Regions from separate parts of the Homo sapiens genome. Here region 1 is linked to region 2. Evidence: fine-mapped expression QTL. Tissue or cell type: whole blood. Region 2 holds a variant in brackets; the other region holds the start of a gene. All regions are shown on one strand. Distances are between the middles of the regions.

Region 1 (8,107 bases), 99 kb before region 2:
AGGTTGTTTTCATTCTCAAGCAGGTATCCTTTTGACTGACTTTTGGACTATATACAAAATCAGTTTTTTTTAGGTTTTGCTAATATACAAGAAAGACTTTCTTAACTCTGGGCTGGGGTTTAGCCTGATTTATTTTTAATATGAATCCACAGAAAAATAAGCATTAAAATCACTTTAAAAAATTAATATTTGGAGGCCCCATAAATATAATGGTGGTGTAAATATAAACAATATTACCTTACAAACTCCACTAATTGAAATCTTTATCATATTACTCTAAGTGGAGAAAAATAACTGATTCCCACCCAACCCCCACTCCGGCCATCAGGAAACTCTCAAAAAGAACTTCATATAGTTAGTATTTTAAGGCAGATCATTCAGATATGCTGCTCAAATTTGATGAATATCTCTTGTCATTTTATATGATGTCACAATGAACAGAGGTATACTTTCATTTACATAGATGGCAAATGATATATTTTTAGATTTAATTGCTATATGTTAAGGTATTTGTATATGACATGTATATTCAAGGACTGCTTTCTTAGCGATTCTTCCTTCTCTGGAATTTTTTTTTTTTTTTAGCTATTTGTGAATAGCTGTTACTTTGGGCACTGAGCCCAGCTTTTCTTAATCTGACTGTCTTTATCTTTTTCTATTTTAAGATACTTTGAAAATTATTGGTTTATTTTCTAAAAATGAAGTAAGTAAATTATCTCTAGGTTCCCCTTAAATGGTATTTTATTATTAGATGGTTTAAAACAATTGTTTGGCTTTTCAACAATAAGTGTAAAAACTGATCACATTGCATGTCAAAATTTATTCACCTATGGTTTGATAATAACAGCTATAACACTTACAGAGTGCTACTGTCATTATTCTGGGTGCTTTATATGTGTTGTTTATTTATTCCACACAACAACCCTATAAGTACCAATATTATCCGCCCCCCTTTGTTTTTTTGAGATGGAGTCTTGCTCTCTCATAGCCCAGGCTGGAGTGCAATGGCTAGATCTCGGCTCACTGCAACCTCTGCCTCCCAGGTTCAAGCAATTCTCCTGCCTCAGCCTCCCGAGTAGCTGGGATTACAGGCATGCACCACCATGCCTGGCTAATTTTTTGAATTTCTAGTAGAGATGGGGTTTCACCATGTTGGCCAGGCTGGTCTTGAACTCCTGACCTCAGGTGATCCACCTGCTTCGGCCTCCCAAAGTGCTGGGATTACAGGCGTGAGCCACCTTGCCTGGCCATATTATCCCCTTTTTATAGATGAGGGATTTACCATACTTACTTTGGTACACATCTATATTCAGTATTGGAAAAATAAGCCATGTTTGGCAGGGCTTATCAGTGAGGCTAGGAATTTGGCCAGTTAAAGCAGGAAACCAACAGAAGAAAGGGAAGTAGTAGCAGAAGCTTGTTTAGAGGCTTCCTGAACCTTACTCTATTCTCCAAACAGAAGAATTTCAAAAAAAGGCTTAGGCAATTCTTTTAAGCTGTTAGTCAAAGGAAAATTACTTTCTTTTTAGTTCTAGGTCAACAAATAATCTACTAGTTTTTGTGAAGGCGCAATCTGGAATTTCTATATATATATATTATTTTATCTTATTTTATTTTATTTTTTGAGATGTAGTATCGCTCTGTTGCCAGGCTGGAGTGCAGTGGTGCGATCTTGGCTCACTGTAACCTCGGCCTCCCAGGTTTGAGTGATTCTCCTGCCTCAGCCTCCCAAGTAGCTGGGATTACAGGTGTGTGCCACCACGCCCAGCTAATCGTTGTATTTTTAGTAGAGATGGGGTTTAACCGTGTTAGCCAGGATGGTCTCAATCTCCTGACCTTGTGATCTGCTCGCCTCAGCCTCCCAAAGTGCTGGGATTACAGGTGTGAGTCCACCGCGCCCGGCCTATATATGGATTTTATTATGATCTTGAAACATTAGCCTTTTGTAATCTTCGACAGAACAAAGAAGCTCAGGAACATAGAAGCACAGGAACCTTTCTTCAAGTTAGAACAGACACAAAGTGCACAAATTCCAATTATTCCTTTTGATGGCTGATTACCTGATGATGGCTATGGGACAGCAACTCTTTGTAGTGTAGCTGCACTTAGGAGCAAAAAGGAAGTCGAAGAGTAGATCTGACAACCCAACCATAGTTAATGTGGAGAGCATTTTTCTATTTGTAGATATTTTGGTGGACTACTTATTGTATGTATACAAATGTTTTTATACTTTTTACATGATGATTACATGAGTTTATGTAATGATATAATTCAATTTAACATAACTGAAACTTCAAAGTTGTGTAATGGTTACAAAGTTGTAGATAAAAATATCTTTAAAGATTAAAAAATTATATAAGATGAAGAAAAGAATCAAATGAAAGTATTGAGTCACATTTTTATTCTATTTATAATAGTTTCTTTGCTGTCTATAACCTTTTCATTAGCCTTCTCAAACAAGGGGTTAAATTTCAGTGGACTCAATTCTTCCAAATTTTGGGAGTAATATCTATCCATTCTCACCAAAAGCAGAAAGTCTGGAAACTACCAGAAAATAAAACTCTAGAAACTAGAAACTCTAGAAAATAATCTGTTACTAGGTTAGCTTTCTTATTTGTTAAGTGAACTATAAAGCCTTTAAACCTTTAAATATCTAAAACAATTTTCATAAGAAACTCAGAGAAATTAAGGGAGAAACTGAGAGGAAAACAGTAACTGGATTGTCAGTTGCTTTGTGTTGTTGAGAAAAAAGAGGCAGTTAAAATTGATAACTAATTGCAGCTAATATATTGGACAATATTAAAGTCTGCAAGTCATTAACAAGTCAGGGTTAGGCAGGGGTAATATTTGTTACCTTTCCTCTGAAACTTGATGTCTCTATTCCTGAATATATCATTACTTTGATTCATCAACATTTTTGGACAAGTAACATTAGTAATAAAAGCTATCTAAGTACTTTCCCATTGTCCTGCTTTTTTTTTTTTAAATAAAAAAGGTGACTATGTTTTACACATGATAGTTTTTTCCATGTTCTTCTGGTTAAAGAGCAGATAGAAAAAAAAAACTTAAAACACGGCAAGGCTGTAACATGCCAAAGGTCACATAACCTGTAGGTACAGCCAGATTTCCTAATTATTAATCTATTGAAATATTTTACAGTTCACTAGATTACTAAATCCGGTTATCAATTAATGATGCACCTGACATACACCCTTCTAGTTTCATAAAAATCACCTCATTAGGCCGGGCGTGGTGGCTCACGCCTGTAATCCCAGCAATTTGGGAGGCCCAGGGGGTGCAGATCCCTCGAAACCAGCCTGGGCAACCTGGCGAAACCCCGTCTCTACCAAAAATACAAAAAAAAAAAAAAAAAAAAGCAGGTGCTGGCTGAGGTGGGAGGATCACCGGGGCCCCTGAGTTCAAGGCTGCAGTAAGCCGTGATCGCGCCACTGCACTTCAGCCTGGGCGACAGAGTGAGACCCTTTCTCAAAACGAACACACACAACAACACAGTAACAACACACCAACCCCCAAAACATCTTATTAAACTCTGTGGATCTACTCCATTTAAACCTAATTGTTTCAGGAAATAGTCTAAAAACATTTTTTTGTCCTGGAATGTAATGTGTATGTAGCCTCAGGGAATAACTCAGTTTATCAGGTTCTTGGCTGTTTTTCCACAGGTCCAAAAGGATAAATGGATAAAGTGATGCTGAAATAACTTAGAGAACCCGTATTCCAACGCTTCTATTTTAAAACAGTGAAGCAGTTTTTAAAATAGAAAAGTATCTACAGTTTTGCTTTCAAGCAAATAGCGTTAACGGAATCATTGCTATTCAAAACTATTTTTGAAGTATCGGTGTACATTTAAAAAAAATAATTTTTAAAAAAGAAAGCTGTCGTATTCTGGATTCCGCAACCCCCCCACCCCGCCTCGCCACTCGTCGCCCTCCCTCCACCTCCACCCTCCCATGGCTTAAGTCGCATAGCTGAAAGGATTTTGCTCATTTTTTCCAAAACACTTCACGTCTGGGTAGTAGCCAATCATGGAAAGTTTCAAGCAAATGTTACATTTGGGAGAGGGATGAAGCTTGTCCGGGGCTGCTCTCGGAGGAGTCGCCAGACGCCCTGACCTGGGGGCCAGATGCGAGCTGGGATCGGCTGAGTTCCGACAGCTCGGCCAGACTCAGCCCTGCCAAACCTGCTGACCTCACTGCCCTCGGCTGCGGGGGATCTCGCCCATGAGTCTCCCCAACAGCTCGAATTCCCAGAGTGGAGGAGCCCACTGCTTCATAAATGCGAGAACCCAGAGCCCCTAGTACCCAACTAGGCTAGCCTCGGAGTTGGCACGGCGTGCAGAAAGTGGCTACTGAGCAGCCGGGCCTGGCTCACCCGCTTCACACGTCAGTTTGACTCCTCTCCCCGCCCCCCACCAATCCCCCGCCCTACTCTCCGCGCACCCAGAGCCGAGAGAAATTTGACTGCCCTAATCGCCAATCAAAAGAGAGGTCGAGGATTTGAGCCAATCGCAGCGGGCGAAAGGGGCGGGCCGTCGGCGAGCGCTGAAGGTCTCTAGCCCTCCCCTGCGCTTTAGCCTCAGTGCGGAGCCTTAGGCGGAGCGAAGAGAACCGGTCGCGGCAATCCTAGCGCGCAGCAGCAGCAGCAGCAGCAGCAGCAGCAGCAGCAGCAGCAGCAGCACCCGCATCCGCTGCGGGAGTCCGAGCCGGAACCACACCCAAGTAGCTGCCCTTTCCTCTTCTGTCATCTCACCGCCCCACCACAGACCGCGTTCCCCGAGGAAACCGGCCGCCCACGCCCGGAGCATCCTCCCCTGTTGAGCGGGCGCTGACGGACCCGGCGGCATGATGCGGCTGCGAGGCTCGGGGATGCTGCGGGACCTGCTCCTGCGGTCGCCCGCCGGCGTGAGCGCGACTCTGCGGCGGGCACAGCCCTTGGTCACCCTGTGCCGGCGTCCCCGAGGCGGGGGACGGCCGGCCGCGGGCCCGGCTGCCGCCGCGCGACTCCACCCGTGGTGGGGCGGGGGCGGCTGGCCGGCGGAGCCCCTCGCGCGGGGCCTGTCCAGCTCTCCTTCGGAGATCTTGCAGGAGCTGGGCAAGGGGAGCACGCATCCGCAGCCCGGGGTGTCGCCACCCGCTGCCCCGGCGGCGCCCGGCCCCAAGGACGGCCCCGGGGAGACGGACGCGTTTGGCAACAGCGAGGGCAAAGAGCTGGTGGCCTCAGGTGAAAAGTGAGTGTCTCCGCGAGGCGCAGGAGGCCTCGTTCCTTTCGGGGCCCGGGCTCAGGCTGTGTGGGGCCCTGCGGTGGGGCGGGATAGGAGCCGAGGGTCTAGAAAAGAGAAAGAAAGAGGTGCCGGGCGGCCTGCGCCGTCTGCGCCATGTGATTAGGCCCGGCCCCGCCCGCGCCTTCCCCGCCCGCAACCCTCCGCCAGGCACCCACTTCCCTTCTCCGCCCCCGGCGGGGGTCGCCCTGGTGGGGCCGCGGTGGGGCCTGATGGGCTCGCCTGGCGTCCCCAGCGCCAGAGAGGCCGCTCCCCTGCCCGCGCTGCGTGCTCAGCTCCCTGGCTTGCGGCTGCAGCGCCTGGCCGCCCGCCCCAGCCATTCGTGGGCGATGCTGCACGAACATCTCCACCGAGTGACATTTAGGAGTTGGGCGTTCAGCAGAGCCTTTACCTTCCTGACTTGTCGCTTTTCCTGGCTCGTTTCCGCTCTGCCTGCCCTCCCTTGGTTTCTGCCATCATCCGGTTGGAAGCCAGATGTGACAGAGAGCTCTTTATATTTCGGGAGTGGCTACCTCAGGCACGTGTAGAGCCATCTGGGGCACCGGAAACAATGTTTCAGAAGTGAGATTAGGAGGAATCCGGTCATGTGGCCGAGAAGATGGGGCACGCAGTATAGACCACCTGTTTGCATAAGGGACCAGCTTTGGCTTGTCAGGTCTTCCGTGAGATGGGGAGATTTTTAGAAATAAAAGTTAAATAGCCAAGATGAAATGTGACGTAATACACTAACTCAGTGAAAAATCTGAGTTGAGTAGGTTTTGTGACTTCATTGTGATAGGATGTTGACTCATCCTGTATGTGTACGGCACAGTAGTTTAGTCTTAAAGCAAAACTGGTTTTTCTTAAACAATATGCAAAGCAGTCTCCTATATATTTTTGTCTTGTGTAATACAAATGGACCACTTTGTTTTCCCAAAATGGGTAAAAATTTACGGATCTGCTTTCATTATACCTTACTCTTTTTCTGGCTTTGTACGCTGACACTCTAACCTGTTTTGCTTCCCTTTTATTTCTGCTGCTATTTCCAGCTCTAGAGTTCCTTAAGTCAAACTGAAAGTGAGAACATTGTTATAATTTCAATCTCACGCCTGCTTGATGTTTTCCTGTAATTGAAGTTGGGACCTTCCAGAAACTTTTCTAAAGTTCTTCTCCCAGACTGAAAAAGATTATTTGAAAAAAATCACTTGATGATGGGCGAAATTTGTGGTATTTTGTGATGTTGGTTTTGTGCCACAAAATAGCGTCCTGACCATGGACAGGTTATTTAATATCTTGGGTTAGATGACTTAAATCCTTTCAAGTTCTAAAAAGCTATACTTCTGTTAAATTTGTACTTCTCTCATGTTTTAGGGACTAGAATGATAATTTAATCTCATCTGGGACTCACTTTTACTTTAACATCATCCGGTTTACCAAGGAAGTAACGAGTTTACATGCAAGTGCCCAAGGTACAGAATTGCAAAATGCAGTCACAACCGTTTAAAAGTTCATCTTAAAGGCTACAAGATGGGAACTGCATTCTAGTAAAATTATGTCTTCAGGTCTGTGTCTCTGCAGTGGCTCTAGTGCCTCTCTTTTTTTTCCTCTTTTGTCAAACAGGAAATTGAGCTTCTTCTGTGATTCACTTGTCCAGAAGTTTCTGGTTTCATTGCCTTTTTAATAAAAAATCACCTTTTAGCAAGGGCCTCAAGGTTGTGAAGAAAGTTTTTTAATTTGGTTAAAGTTTCTATTTCCTTAATGATCTGGTTTCCAAATGTAGCTTTCCCTCTTTGGCTCCTTTCATTTTGCCTTTATGTGACAAACATTTCTCTTATCCTGGGAGGTAAGCTCCCAGTTGATCCTGTTATCCTTTCTAATGCTTAGCCTGCAAAGCATAGGTCATCCCTCAGTCAGCAGTCCACCTGGTATGCTAGCACTCACTCAGGACTGTGCCAGATTTTATGTAGTATTATTAAAAGAAATAACCATGAGAAAATTAAATTAACATTTTGTAAAAGGCTTAGAACAATATTTGGCGTGTGTTAAATGACACATAACTATTTATTAAATAAATGAGAAAACATTGCTTCTTCATTATTGTAAAGCCTGTTAAAGAGATTGGCCTTGGAATTTCAGGCTTGCACATGAAGGTTTTTAATTTTTTTAGTTTCCACAAAAATGTTTATCTTGAGAAATTGCTATACATCTGTCTTATATGAAACTATGTGAGTTGCACTGTTTACCTTTTGCTCTGCTGATAAATAAGTTCAGAGTAAATTTAATGCTTAACCACACCAATTTCATCAGTTCACATGGCTGGGATATCTGCGTTTCCTCCTTTCCTTGGTCCTGAGTTTATATTTTATTTACTTTATATTCTGGAAGGAGGCGTGATATAAGCAAGTTACTTTACCTTTTTTTCACAAACTCTTTGAACTAATGTCACTTTAGACTATGCTGTTTCCATCACGCAACTTTAGTGTGGTTTAGGATACGAACGTCTTAATATCACATAGAAAAATTTAATGATCTTTGCTCAGTTTTGTCTTTAGTGATCTTATTTAATTTTGTTATGGTTCATTCTGTTATCTTGAAAACCAACTTTGCTTGCCTCTCTTCGTTTTCAAAATTGTTCTCTCTTCTTTCCTAGTTCTTTTTGAATTTCCTCACTGGGTAAAAACCCTGAGGCTGAGGCCTTTGTCCCTTTCCCACTTGTCTGCCTTCTCAACAGCGTATCCCTTCTTTCAGCTTTGACTCTCATCTTTGTGTAGGTAATACTTCACCTCTTAATCCAAAGCTCTGTTCTTAAATTTGTCGCCACATATTCAA
Region 2 (8,107 bases):
TTTTAAAGTAGTAAAATGCTGATAGGCAGTAACACGGGGATCTCAACAAGTTCAGCTGTGATGGCGATAGCAATTACAATGGAAAAGTAAAATACAAGCATCTTCAACAGGCCCCAGCCAGGAGCAAGGCTGGCTTGAGGTTTGTAAACATGTCACTCTTCTGTGTTCACTTACACTTCAGACACAGAAATCAACTCAGTCTTGATATATCCAGTTCCTTTAGGGCCATCAAGTTCCATTGGCTCTGGTGCTAGAAATAAACACATTGTGTACGCTTTCCATCAACCGAAATTCCATCAGAATACAACATCAACTTTTCGGGGGGATTAAAGTTCTACTGTGTTTCTAGACAGCTTAGCCTCCTAAAACTTTAAGGAGCTATAACCTCCCTGCCTGAGTCACCTAAAATTCTAGTGGGAATGCAGAAACAACGAGAAGAAGGATCTGAATTCAGTCTGGAAATAAGCTAGTGTTCAGCAGGACACTAGCTAGGAGCTTTCTCTTTACACAACTTGAAATCTTACAAGAAGTCTGAGCCCAAAATATGCAAAGTTCTATCCAGTTTATTGGCATTAGCCTGGCTAATGAATATTCACAGCTGTCAAGGTAAGCTGGGGACATCTTCATTCCAAAGTAATTGTCCTAATATTGAGATTTCTGATTCTGAAAAACAGCTTTGTTGGTGTGTTCCAAACAAAACAGGTCTAATTCGAACCTTCTCAAATGCAATTCATTGACAACTGAGAAGCAAGAGACCTGTGTTCTCAGATGAGGCCTCCTCTTAATAATTATCTAATAAAAATAGGATCTAGTAAGTAATTGGGCCACCCTAAATGAACCACTTCACTTCTCCCAGGCCTCAGTTTCCTCAACTTTAACGTGAGCAAGATGCCTTCTGTTGGTTTACCACAGTTCCTTATTTAAACCCTTTTCATGTGGAAACAGTGATAGTAACAAATACACAAGACCAGCAATGGACTTTTCCAACATTCCTAAAATAGGAAATTGTCCATTCATTTCTTACTAGCTGTATCAGGCCAAATAATGCATTATGTTTCACCTGCACTGAGTTTATGCCATCTTTTGAAAGCCTACTCTTACCAATTCGAAAGCAAAACACTGCATGGGTGGAGTTTCAGAATAATCACCCCCTCATCAGGAAAGACTGTGCCACGCTGTTACCACCTGCTTGCCCCACTTACCTTCCTTTGGCCTGGAGTAATACTTTCCAAAGGCATGGTCTTTGTCAATATTTGGATACAGATACTTCAGGGGATTCTCAGGAATATTCTCAGCAGCCATGACTTTGTAATTGCGAATGATGTCAGGGAAAGTAACAGCAGAAAGTTCTTTCTTCGTGTAGGGTTCAACCGCATGGAAGTCAGGTTCTAAAAAGGAGAAAAGCTAAGTAAATCCCATAGAACATCCCAAAATGAAAGAGGACAGAGAAATAAAACACTGCAGAGTTGATGGATTTGAGTGAACCTCATAAGAACTAATCACAATCTAAGCATTATAACATATACAGTAGACTGCTTTATTTCTAAATAAATTATAATACTGTCTCAGGGAAAATAAAGGGAGGTATTATTCTCAATAACATTCTATTTGCCATTATTTGCTTAGATTTATAAATCTGGGCAAAAAAGATTTATTAAAAACCTTTAAAAGCCTGCATCTTCAATGATGTGCTGCCCATAGGCACATAAATAACTTACTACTAAGTGGATCATCTTGGCTTAAGCCACAGATTTAAATTACTAGAGATAAACTCACTTTGTTTTTCTTTTCATATTGAAAAATCTAATTTTTTATTAAAATAAATTATGATATATAGAAAACAACATTTCAAATTAAAAATGATCCTATTTGCTACATTTCCCTGTAACCCTTAACGTAATAAACCATGGTTTAATTTACTCCCGTTCTTATTCCCAGACTGAATTCAGATCCTTCTTCCTAGCTGATACAGAATCTCCCTTTGGGTGTCGACCTTCCAGAGGCCACGGTTCAGGTGTTCTGGGGAGCCTGCTGTGGAACATGAGACTATGCTGCCATCCTAACCCTTCCTGGCTGGTAGTGTCCTGCTTGACCTTTCCTGGTTGCCAAGGGTTTTCTTCATCTCTGCTTGGTCTACTATATCTGTCTCTCAGCTGGTTCAGGAAGGGAACAGGATAAGAGGAAAAGGGCAGGTTCTAATGACTACTGCCCACGCCAGACTCTCATCTCAGCCTCCCTGCTTTTTCCTCAGAAGAAAAATAGAACAAGAAAAGTATTCCAGAAAAACAAATAGAACAAGAAGAGTATTCCTGAAAAATAAACAGAACAAGAAAGAATACCGTTCCAGAAAAAAAAAATAGAAGAGTATTCCAGAAAAACAAACAGAACAAGAAGAGTATGGCAGAAAAACAAATAGAATAAGAGTATTCCAGAAAAACAGGAGAAGAGGAATATTTCAGAAAAATAAATAGAACAAGAAGAGTATTCCATTTTGTGTCTACCCACTGAAAGTATAAAAATTACTAAAACAAATCAGTTTTTCCTCCTGCCCTTCAAACAGACCAAACTCTAAACAACAGTGAAAAGTAATCAGTTGGTCTTTATGATTTTTTCATTTACGCTGTTGAGCTTCACCCTCAGAAACCTGCTTCATAACACCAAGGTTTCTGGAGTCTTTTAGCCATGGACTCATTTGATTAAATAGAAACCCCATATATGATAAAGATAAATTTGCAGCTGCTCTGTTTGAAGGCAGGGTAGAGGCTGCCACTCGTCCCAACAGGTCCTGCATCAACTCCCTGGCTGATGATGTGTATGAAGTCTTCTCCCGAAGCCTGTCTCATCTGCACACTCTACTCTGGGATGACCCTAAGAGAATGTGGATGCTTACTCCTGTGGGAAATGTGATTCCTTCCAAGAACGGGTTGCAGATTACATTGACTCACATCCTTGATCTGCAGATAACAAACCTGATGCAAAGGAAAGAATTGGCATTGTCTTTTCAAAACCATCATTTCCACAATATGTTCCAGAGAGTGAACCACAACCACAAACATTTGTGGTGGTTTATTAAATCCTATCGGGGGCTCATTTGGGGTAAGTATAAGATCTGCAATTTCATGTCCCAAACGCACTATCTGTATGAGCTGACTGGCGGCGATGAAGAGGGACTTCACACACATGGAATGGTGGGACTATGTGCTCAAACTCCCACTCACCGCCTCCGTTCTGGGACCGCTCCACCCATGTGAATGTGATGGCCCCTTCCCGGGAGCTCTCACTGAACCGCAGCAGGAAGGTCCCCGGCTGCTGGTCCTTCAACAGGGCACGCTCTCGCTCCTTGCTGATGAAGCCCATGATGCACCTGGATATCGAAGAGATGGACGGATGGGCTTTTAGTTCAATCATGATTTCCATTTTCATGCTAACTTACAAACCAAGAAAATGGCTGGAATGTGAGAAAAAAAACCTACGGTAAAAAACGTAGACTATTTTAAAATCTGTTCAGTTGACACTTAAGGAAGCATTTCACTTATACATGTATATACTAAGGTTTTAAAAAAAGCGATATGAACATGGTGTCAGTAGGATGCTACAGATGCTCAATAACACGTGTGGGATTAATGAGCCTTTTATTGTTCCTTTATTATTTTAAAGGCCATAACAATGTCTGAATGTATACATCTTTTTTACTGGAGAGGAAGACCTAGGCAATATATTTTCATATTTTAGCCCTTCTGATCAAGTTAAAGCTTCTGTTGAAATATCAGCCGATCCTGGCAATAAGTCAAGATAGAAATGATTTACCCAGTTAAAAGGGTTTTTCTTCCTTCCTAGGGGCCACATAGTAGGTGCTCAAAAAATTTTTGTTGAGTGAATGAATGCATGAATGGCACTCAAGAGTTGTTTTTTTTTTTTAATTTAGCTTTGCCAATACATATACTTGTACTAAGAAAGTGTAAGGTTAATGTTATGAGGTTCTACTCTTCTGAAGCCCTGAAGGGGCAGCCTATAAATGCGCACTCCTGTGAGATTCACACACGCCTAGTCAAATACTGAAGCTGGACTCAGGCCTTGTCTCAACCTCGCAGCACTAAAAATATGTTTCAAAATACATCTATCGGTGGCCCTTACCCATCATTCCAGAGAGGGAGCAGGTGTTTTTTAATGAGTTCTAGGATGCTTTCAATCCAAAGCCAGAAGGGAAAATTTTTATCATTTATATTTTCCTGAAAGTATACAAATGCAGACATTATGAACAAAAATCTAAAACAATGACTTACCATGGCCCCTCCCACCATCATTTGCAAAGACTCCCCAGGTGCCAAGGATGGAACTGTCCCATTCAGCACAGCAATGGGATCCCTCCCCTGGCAGGGAA[T/C]ATCAAGTTCCCTCCCCGCTCTTATCAGCATTCAGACCAGGAGCTCTCCAGAGCTCTCCACTTCCCTGGGCCGGGCTCTGCTTCCCTTTCCAAACAGTAGCAAGCTAGCCTGGGGGTGACCTCCAGCGTGACTCACGGAAACACAAGCTGCCCCACACTAGCAAAATCCAGCAGTGCAAGCTGGTCCGCACTGTCTGGTGACTCCAGCAGAATCTAAATGTTCCCCGCAGTGGGCCCCTCTGCTCGAGCAGGCCGTTAAACTCGTCTGGCTGGTCAGGCTGCGCCACCCAGCCCACAACATACATTTCACACAGAAATGGCTAAAACACTGCTGGGCAGGGGTCCAGCGTGAGTGAACAGAAGCCTCATTTCAGATATGAAAGAATGTTATCACTCAGGCAGGTGCTTCCTGTCAGACTCCTGCTCGGAGACCAACCTCCTGCACTGAAGAAAAGTAAACAACTTGCCCGAGGGGCTCCTTGGCCAGAGAAGAACACGCCAAAATAAGCAAACAGTTAAGTAACTATCACAGCAAGAAACATGAGAACCTCAACCAAGAGCAAAAAGGACTTAGAGAGCATAAAACCCAGACAGTCCTCACCTTACAAAACCTCGTCCACGGAATGAGACCATCGGGGCTGGCGTTAGGACCTAAACAAATAAAAACCAGATTTTTCAGCAAACAGAAACTGATTCTAAAGCTTTGGTTGGACGGATGGCTCTTGTATTTGCTCTCAAGGAAAAGAGCCAAACACCCAACAAAGATTGTATGTACACAGTTGACATTTTCGGATACCTTAATGCCAAATTAACTGAGCAATTATAATACGTGCTGTAAGAGGGCGGAATTTAAATGGTCTAAAATATGTATATGTTGGTTTGAGTTTAATGGCAGAAAGGAATGGATGGCAGATTCCTGGGCACCACGATATGAGAGTTTTTAGGGAAAGCGGAAACATCACAAAGCCTTACCATCTGCTCTCTCCCTCCCCAGCCCCCCTTTTCCCTCCCTCCTCTAAAGAGAGGACAGTCCTTTTAATGCCTCTTCATGTTACACTTCCTTCCAAGACCATCAGCTGACTTTGCCTTTTGCACTAAATCAAAGGTGTTCTGCTGGGCCTCCTAGAGAAGCCTCCCTATCCAGTGCCTCTTCCCACTGCCTTCCTCTGCTGCTCAGCAGAGCCCCCTCTCCCAAGGATCCTACAGAATTTTTTTCAAAGTTCAACCTAGGTGCCCAAGATCACCCCTAGATCTTCAATGTAACTGATACTTGACTTTACAAGTTTATTTTAGACATTATTTATGCATTTCCCTCAGCTTTCCTCCAAATAGGACATGGGCTCAGGCAGTCTGATGCAAATCAAAAACCAAGTGAGAGAAACGAGAGGAAGAAGCCCGGGGTTATTAGCTACACAAATTAAAGCAGCCTGGGCGAGAAGAGGCGGTAAGCCCATTATCGGTCTTCAAAGAGAACTACAAATGAGCCATTACAGCTAGAAAAGATATCCTTCTTAACTCTCACCAAATAAAGAAATGGAATAAGGGGATTTTGTACTTGTATTAAACAGCACAAGACCACCACTGTGACAGCTGCATATCCAAGAGAAGAAGGCACTGTTGAAAGTCACTGAGTTAGGAAGAGCCTACTGCTGTTTGGAGTAAATGCAGTGCTGCTCTACAGAAAGCAAATCTGGATACAAGTTGTCCACGGATTTTTAAAGAAATAGTTCAGATAGCCTCACTCACTGAAAGATCTGACCTTGAGACTAGTGGATCTTTGATTTGTTTAGTATGAAGGACTAATAAATGCACTGACATTAACCACTGAAAGGGAATTATCTACCACTGTCTAGACTCTGTCCAATCAGGCAAAACTGCAGATCAAAAGAGGCATCCTCTTGTGGGGACGGCATCCTCTGCTACCTGGGCCCCACCTGAGGCAAGGGCCCTGGGTTTATGCTGCAGTGGGCAAGCCCCAGGACTTTATTTCTCATCATGTCAGGGACTTCCTTTTTTCTCCCCAAGGTTAATGGTTAATAGGCCTTCATCTTTCTCATCCAGGAACTTATTTCAGCCACAAATAATATATTTTACATAATTCATAAAACTTTCCCTTGGGAATTCATCTCAGAAATCTTAATATGAGACAATGAGGAACGGATTCATTTAAATGTTATCAGGTCTATATTTCTTTCTAAGGTGACATATGATTCTCACTTAGCTATAATAAACTATAGCTTGAAAAGCTGACAGATTTTAGTACTTTTTTACCTTTAACAAAATAGCAGAGGGGAAAAGAGCAATTAGAGAGATATTTTTATGAATTTCAATTTTTATAAACATAACAAGTTAATATGCATATACCAAGAAGCTTCTCTCCCAACATGTTCAGCTGGTCCACATTGAGACCTCTTTTGGTGACAGAAGAAAACTGCCAACTCAGCACTTCTGAAAGCTGAGCCCATCGTGCACATGGTGGAGTCAGGAAGAAGGACAGATTCTAGAGAGAAAACACCCAAAATCTAAGGGTTACTACAGAGACACCAGTCACAAGTGTGGCACTAAAACATATGTCCATCCCAAAGTTCAATTCTAGTTTATATGACACACAGGTGCTTTCACAGTAGGGGAAGAGAAATACAGTCAATTTTCATTATTTACAGATGCACATTTGTGAACTTGTTTACTCACTAAAATTTACTTGTAACTCCAAAATCTAAATACATGGCATCTTTGGGGTCATTTGAAGACACACCCGTGCACACACAGCAGCACACAGCAGCAAAGAATTCGAGTCTCTTAACACGCTTCCAACTGAAGCCAAACAAAATGACACTCGCTTCCTGTTTCACCTCTCATAAGAAAAACGTGTCCTTTTTGAAGCCTATTTAGCGCCATGTTTTTTGCATTTTGTGACTGCTGTTGGTGATCCCTGTTTAAAATGGTGCCCGAGCATAGTACCACAGTGTGGTCTACTGTTCCTAAGCATGGGAAGGCTGGGATGTGCCTTATGGAGAAAATACATGTGTGAGGCAAGCTTCACTCAGGCATGAGTTACAGTGATCCTAGCTATAGGTGTAATGTTAATGCCTCAACAAGTGTATTAGATAAGGTGTCTTTAAACAGAAACACACATAAACAATGTTATGCATTGATGGGTTGACAAAAATGTTGTGACCAGAGGCTTGAAGGAACCTAGCCTCGTAGTTCCCTTAGGAGCAACAATTCATTATTTGCTAGTTAAGTGTTCCTGGTGACTTTAAAAAACATAAGTACTTTGAATAATTATAAATGACTGTAATTAATTAACAGTGAGTATCCACACTCTAAGAATGGAGCATGCTTGTTTAGTAGATGTATACATTTTAAAAATAATAACAATAAAGTGGTATGGAATCACTGACTGCCCTAGCTTACCCACATGGGAGAAAAAACGTAATTCTCATTTCAAATACATATCCATGCTTCATATTCCCAGATTTACTCAAAAGCCTTAGAAATACCACAGGAGCTTTGTCACTTCTCCCTTAACAACTGGCCATTGGGGCTATTTCAGAGATGCAGCAGTGAGAGCGTGGGGTCTCTGCTTAACCCTGGGACCAAAGCAAATGTGTTTTCCATACCCTGGGTTCCGCCACCAGCATGTTGTACCAAAGGATGGAGGCCCAACCGCTCGGGAGCTGGCTGACGTTGGAGATCACCACAACGGGCAGAGAGGTCGTCTAA

The links. PIP is the estimated chance that this variant, and not a neighbour inherited with it, causes the effect.
Region 1: GLS starts here. The variant in region 2 is fine-mapped to the expression of GLS in whole blood (TOPMed, PIP 0.93).

What each region holds. Positions count from the first base shown.
Region 1 is chr2:190,876,223-190,884,329 of GRCh38, forward strand. It overlaps GLS (glutaminase), which reads left to right and starts at 4,599. Exons shown (of 18, transcript NM_014905.5): 1 at 4,599-5,248. The coding sequence starts at 4,863. LOC124906110 (a long non-coding RNA gene) reads right to left here and starts at 5,766. Exons shown (of 2, transcript XR_007087791.1): 1 at 5,691-5,766; 2 at 114-5,346. RefSeq lists enhancers at 3,987-4,126, 5,523-6,722, 5,887-6,076 and silencers at 4,397-4,656, 4,997-5,056, 5,107-5,196, 5,257-5,566.
Region 2 is chr2:190,975,638-190,983,744 of GRCh38, forward strand. It overlaps STAT1 (signal transducer and activator of transcription 1), which reads right to left. Exons shown (of 25, transcript NM_007315.4): 17 at 8,005-8,103; 18 at 6,746-6,881; 19 at 4,983-5,032; 20 at 4,135-4,229; 21 at 3,219-3,364; 22 at 1,203-1,388; 23 at 175-250. Among named protein-coding and RNA genes, the nearest start is that of STAT1, 34 kb to the right of the region's middle. The variant T/C (reference allele first, on the strand shown) is at 4,382.